Linked DNA regions of Homo sapiens. The protein of the gene in region 2 interacts with the protein of the main gene of each other region in a pairwise test. Each region holds a gene or a part of one and is shown on either strand. Other genes may lie near its edges.

Region 1 (3,500 bases), on a different chromosome or scaffold from region 2:
TAAACCCAGCACTTCGAGAAGACTGCTTGACCTCAGGAATTTGAGCCCAGCCTGGGCAACATGGCGAAACCCTATCTGCACGAAAAACACAAAAATTAGCCGGGCGTGGTGGTACGTGCCTGTGGTCCCAGCTAGTTGGGAGGCTGAGGTGGCAGGATCACTTGAGCCCAGAAGATGAGGCTGCAGTGAGCCAAGACTGCACCACTATACTTTAGCCTGGGTGAAAGAGCAAGACCCTGTCTCCAAAATATAAATACATAAATATAAAAGTTTTTTTAAAAAATTTTAAAAATAGCCAGCATGGTGGTGTGCACCTGTAGTCTCAGCTACCTGGGGGGCTGAAGTGGGAGGACTGCTTAAGCCCAGGAGGTCAAGGGTATAGTGAGCCATAATCATGCCACTGCACTCCAGCCTGAGCGACAGAGTAAGACTCTGTCTCAAAAGAAACAAACAAACAAACAAACAAACAAAAAAACTTGCCAGGCATGGTGGCTCATGCCTGTAATCCCAGCACTTTGGGAGGTCCAGGCAGGAGGATTGCTTCAGGCCCCAAGTTTGAGACCAGCCTGGACAAAAGTGAGACCATTGTTTTTTGGTTTTTAGATTTTTAAAAAGAAAATAACTACACATAAAACAAAGCCAATTAATGGACAATAGGTAACATGCTCCTTTTCAGAAATGTTTTTATAACATGGCAAATCCTTTAAGTTTACAATAATATAGCACTAAAATAGCATGTTTTCTAAACACTATTCCATGCAGTTATTTATCAGTGGTTCCACATATACCCATCACTTCATTTTAAAAAGGATTTGAGAGAGTTTGCAAATCACTAAAAAAAAAAAAAAAAAAAAAAAAAGACCACAAATTTGACACTCAGTTGCCCAGGAACCAATCTGAAACATAATTCACCATATCCATGAGGAGTATACTACTTATTCCCAACTTTTAAAAATAAGAAATGGCTTAACCAGAAATTATTCAGAATCACAAAAATGAAAGTGGGGAATGGACAGGGCATGACTTTCTTGTGTTTAGAAGCATCCACTTCCTGGGAACTTGGACTTTATATTAAGAACTGATACCTAATATTTAAACCATATGTCACTCAAAATCTTAAAATTTCTAATACATGCTACTACGCCAATAAAAATGATCATATAATAAATGGCTTCATGATAGTAAAAACTAGTAATTTTTAAGCCCCAACCCATAATCTGTATTTATGAGCAATATTCAATTTTATACAAATTTTCATGGCAATTAAATTTTGGCAGTCTCTGAAACTGATTTAATAAGCACTAATATTCTTTTCTTTGTCTTTACATTCATGGTTTCCAAGTCCTATCAATTCGTCTTTCATACAGCCTCTTCGTAAACTAACTATAAAAACAGATTCACAGCCAATTAAAGAAAGCGTGCTTCTTATACTCTTATATTCCTCCCTTCTATTCCATTTTCACTGAATGAACAAATAATGAAATAGTTCAGGCCCTACTCATCTTTCTCAGAACTACTGTAATAGCTTTCTAAATAATTCATCTGCTTTTCCTTCCCACCTATCTTGAATATTGTCACCAATTTTCTAATACTGCTTTCACGGTGCCTTGCCTCAGTTCAAATAACCTTCAATGGCTGTCTTCCCAAAGCCAAAAGCTCTAATTCGAGAAGGGGTGAAAAACAATAACTTTAGAAACAACAATTAAAAAAAACAATTTTGGTTTCATAATATAAATTACCAAAAGCAAGGGCAACTGGATAGCAGAGCATGGATTAAAGTGGAATGATAAAATCCAAATTCCTTAATTTGGCATTCAGTATCTTTCAGAATCCAGATCTACATATTTTCGGTCTTAATTAACCTTGGTTTAGAACATGTCCAGAGACCAGTTCGAAGTCACCCTTAATTATGTTTGCACTGCTCTCAAATCGATTTCTAGCCAGAGTTTTCTGCGCATATCCTCAAAGCCTAACTTAACCAACCACTAAGCCAAGTATTTTCCCATGAAAAATGGCCCTCAAGTGAGAGGTTTTAGTCTCACTTCAGTTACTGCATTGCGATGGAGATGCTCTGGGCACAACAGCAAACAGTAAAATTACAACTTATTAACAGATGAAAATCAGGGCTTACTCATAAATAACGTAAACAGCAATGTTAAACAGACAAGTGTCAGTGATCTAGAAACCCTCTCTTCCAGGCAGGCTAGTCTATGCTTCTAACCCTGCTCTGCACATTTCTCACCTTTGTCTCACATCAGTCCTCTCAGTAGCCCTGAATCTTCCAAACTTATTTTAGTTCCAAAATCACAATATAATTATTTAATAAGCATATTTTTATTTTTTTAAAAAGCTAAACATTTTTACCATTGCCTGTTAGAGACCCCCAATGATCTGGGTGGGTAAGGCCACCTCTTCACTCTCCCACTAGTTTTTCTCACTAGTCTTACACTAGATTCTCAGACACAAAGAGCTCATTCCTGCCTCAGGGTTTTGCCCTGAAGTTGCTTGGAAATGTTTTCTCTCTGCAGCTCAAATCTCACCTTCTAAGCCTGTCTTAGTGTCACCTAACCTAAAAAAGCCCCCATAAATCCCCATCATTCTCTATGCCATTATCCTGTTTATTTTCCTCATAACACCACTATTCTGGGTTCTTTATTTATGTGCTTATTATCTGTACTCTCCCAAGGGGGAGCATGTGTCTTGCTTATTGCTATACCCTCAAAGCTTAGAATAGATCCTGTCTCTTGGTAGGTAATCAATAATGGGTTGAATTAATGAACAAACTCTTGAATGCATTAAGAAATCCAGACACATTGAAAATGGTTAACTATCCACAACCATAATCACAATGTTCTTACACTTACTAAAAAAACTAAAGTTTCCCAATAGGTATCATCAATATGGAATTAGGGAACTCTGTAGAACAGGCAATATTCTTTCCCCATTGCCTTCCAACCTCAGCATTCCAACACACAAGATTCCAAGAGAGTGCTGTCACCCCCTGAATCCCTAATGTTCAAAGACAGAACTATTTTCTTTGTTCCCATACCAATACAAGATTAGTATGCTTTTGTCAATCATTAAACTTCCTGTGGCCAGGCGCAGTGGCTCATGCCTGTAATCCCAACACTTTGGGAGGCCAAGGTGGGTGGATCACTGGAGGTCAGGAGTTCAAGACCACCAGCCTGGCCAACATGGTAAAATCCCGTCTCTACTAAAAATACAAAAATTAGCCAGGCGTGGTGGCAGGCGCCTGTAATCCCAGCTACTCGGGAGGCTGAGGCAGGAGAATCACTTGAACCTGGGAGGCGGAGGTTGCAGTGAGCCAAGATTGCGTCATTGCACTCCAGCCTGGTGACAAGGGGGAGACTATCTCAAAAAAAAAAAAAAAAAATTCCTGTTTAAAAATATATTTCATATTTTTCTCTTACCTCAGTTTCCCTCAAGTATGTCTTTTTCATAAAGAAAAAGGAAAAGATTGAGTTACTCCTCATCTTCTA
Region 2 (3,500 bases):
GAGGCAAGAGAATCGCTTGAATCCAGGGGGCAGAGGGTGCAGTGAGCCAAGATCGTACCATTGCACTCCAGCCTGGGCAACAAAAGCGAAACTCCGTCTCAAAAAAAAAAAAAAAACAAAAAACAGAAAAGACCGATGCAATGTAATATAACATAAGTGTTTCTAATGTTAATGAATAACCTTTGAGCCTCTTATTTTGCTTAATACAAAAGTCTCTATAGGGTGTGAGAACTGTAAAATGTAACACTACTGTATAGTCACTACTATAATTTTACACTGTGTTGAACTGGAAGAGTTTTCCAGATAACACAATGTTTCTCAACTAATATTAACTCCAGATCTACATCCAATGCTATATTCTCAAGTGTGACTATACAGAATCAACTTGCTAGATCCTTTGATAATGGCTGATAAGGCAGTGTAACATCCTCTGAAACAAAAAATCTTATCAATTGGGAATTAGTCATCTATTATAAAGGAACTGCTGAACATAAGGCACACAATTTAATTACAACAGTGAATTGCTAGAGTCCACGTCTGCTAATGACAACTAATGCTTTAGCAAGGACAACAAATACTTGAAGACCTTAATGTTATTTTCTTCATTTTTACCTCTTCTGGCATATAAAACAGTACATAATCAAAGGCTAAAACAGGATCTGATCAATCATGAGCACCATATATTAGAGAAAAAAATCCAGCAAGATTTCTCTCAAGTTACATACATGAGTTTTACAAAAGGTTATTAATATTACGAAGAAGTAAGCTGTCAGCAAAATTTTGTAAAAATATAGGCACCTGCTTCTCAGTGATATAGTTACCTGGACTTAAAAGCAATTCAGCTGTTCTACAGCACTACAGTGAGGGCCCTGGTTTGGGTTCTGAACCCCTAATTCTTAGGCATTCTTTATTACTGGCTTACATTCTTTCTTTGCTGTCATTATATTTTCTTTCATTTATAGCCTATGTATTCCTGCATTTTTGATTAGTCTGTGATATGATTTTAATGCAATGTGGAGCTTAGCACAATAAACCAAAGTCTCCCAGTATTATGTAGTTTTGTCACAGATTCATTATGAATATGAGTCTCTTTTTAAAAACATACGCAGGGCCGGGCATGGTGGCTCACACCTGTAATCCCAGCACTTTGGGAGGCCGAGGTGGGCAGATCACGAGGTCAGGAGTGCTAGACCAGCCTGGCCAACATGGTGAAAACCCGTCTTTACTAAGAATACAAAAATTAGCTGGGCATAGTGGTGCGTGCCTGTAATCCCAGCTACTTGGGAGGCTGAGGCAGGAGAATTGCTTGAACCTGGGAGATGGAGGTTGCAGTGAGCCCAGATCGTGCCACTGCACTCCAGCCTGGGCAACAGAGCAAGACCCTGTCTCGAAAATAAATAAGTAAAATTAAAAAAAAATGCATAAATGGACAAGCAAAAGGTAAAATATACTGTGGTATATTTGGTTATGGATGATTTCTGATCCAGAATTGCTAAATCTTTTTCTTAAGAGTATTCAAGGAGAAAAACGCTGTACAAGTCAGAAAAATTAAAGTCTTAATATTCTTCTCTATTGCAGGTTAAAAACTAATGTAAACTTTATTTATAAACATAAAAATAATAGAAATCTCTTTAAACTATGACTTTTAAAAACTTTTATAGCAATACTCTCACAGAGGAAAAAATAATGATGTAGATAACTTTTATTAGCTCAAAGAAATTATGTTATAATAGCAATACAAGGTAACATTTATTGAGCACTTATTATGTGTCAGGTTCTAGCTAAATCATAAAAATGAAGCACAAAAAAGTTAGAAAACTTACTGGGATCATACACCTAACCAGGGTTTAAACTGAGTCATTCTGACCAGAGTGCTCAGGTCTTTAATATAAGATTAACATAATATAATCTAGTCCAATAAAATGCAATCACCAGAAAGATAAAAAGTTGAATGGCAAAGATGTGAAGATTAAGAAAATTAAAAAAAGAACTAACGCTGACACTAAAAAAAACTTCTTCCAATGGTAATCTGATTTTATTTTGAGGGTACAGACTTTAGAGACCGCAAGCATCCAGCTTCCTGTCTTAAATTCCTAAACCCTTACCAATGCTAAAAATTAAAACAAATTTCCATAGATTTAGCATATGAACAGAAATATTCATTTATAATATCCAAAGGTAATTTGCATAAGGAAAACACAATCTGCTCAATAGAGCTTAGTATTATAATGGAAATGAAACATATTATTAAAAAGTGATTTCCTTGTTGAATATAATTTGGAGATACTTTAGCTTAAAAGTGAGACTGTTAAAATCTGCTTTTCTGCTATAACATATCATATAGACCACGTCCATCAAAACTGCTAAATCCTGACTGAAGAAACAGATATTACATGATATACAAAACCCAGTATCTTCTATTTGTTTCAATTCAGTTTGAAAATCTTTCTGGAGTACCTCCTATATGACAAAATTCCAAGCTGTGAATAGTAAAGGACACATGCAAACCTGACAGAGGAACTATTTAGTAGACAAGGAAGACCTTTTTAATGCTTAATGTTACTATTTAAAATTCAAAACTAAAATCAGTGGCCTAACCAAAAGATTTCTAGGAACTGGGAAAGCAGGCTGAAATATAGCACAGAAAGACTCAAGTCCACTCTATACATTCATACAGTACCTGGGAGCTGAATCTGTGAACATCATCAGAGGCACTGACTAGATCAATGGAAGACATGGAGGAAGAGCGACTATAGGGCTACCAGAGACAGACAAAGAAAAAACCAAGTAATCAGAACAAAGGCACAACAGAGCATTCAGTACCAACTTCCAAACACAAGATAAAGGGAAGAGAAAACAAAGCACTATATGAAACAAGCACAGCAGCAACTGCTGACTTCATGCACCTATTATGTATTATGTTCCAAAATCATTCCAAAAAAGAATGTAGTGCTTCCAATAATACAAAGTAATACCATTTAACCCCAAAGAAGAGAGAGATTTAGTATAACTGGATATACTTCTGGTTAACTATTTTGGACTAGCCACTCCTTATTTGCCCACCCCCAACTTTCCCCTTAAATAAAAATGAAAGAACTTTATTTTCAGAACAAAATTTCTAACTGTTTTGGAGGATGTATATGGAATACAATATATAAAACCAAAAACAGTCTCATTACTTAAATTAATGAAAAGGGGAGAAAACTTATATACTACAAGATATTTCCGGCTGGGCATGGTGGCTCACGCCTGTAATCCCAGCACTCTGGGAGGCTGAGGTGGGTGGATCACAAGGTCAGGAGATCAAGACCATCCTGGCCATGGTGAAACTGTCTCCATTAAAAATACAAAAATTAGCTGGGTGTGGTGGTACATGCCTGTAATCCCAGCTACCAGGGAGGCTGAGGCACGAGAATCTCTTGAACCCGGGAGGTGGAGACTGTAGTGAGCCGAGATCGCGCCACTGCACTCCACTCTGGTGACAGAGTGAGACTCCGTCT

The links.
Region 1: the proteins of CERT1 (region 2) and RTN4 interact in binary tests that used the Homo sapiens proteins (3 or more experiments, as listed by UniProt).

What each region holds. Positions count from the first base shown.
Region 1 is NC_000002.12:55,043,952-55,047,451, forward strand, and holds part of RTN4 (reticulon-4), read right to left. Parts: intron 3,376-3,500; exon of another isoform or gene 2,865-3,375; intron 1-2,864. UniProt on the Homo sapiens protein: Required to induce the formation and stabilization of endoplasmic reticulum (ER) tubules. They regulate membrane morphogenesis in the ER by promoting tubular ER production.
Region 2 is NC_000005.10:75,396,630-75,400,129, forward strand, and holds part of CERT1 (ceramide transfer protein), read right to left. Parts: intron 2,759-3,500; coding exon 2,681-2,758; intron 1-2,680. UniProt on the Homo sapiens protein: Shelters ceramides and diacylglycerol lipids inside its START domain and mediates the intracellular trafficking of ceramides and diacylglycerol lipids in a non-vesicular manner.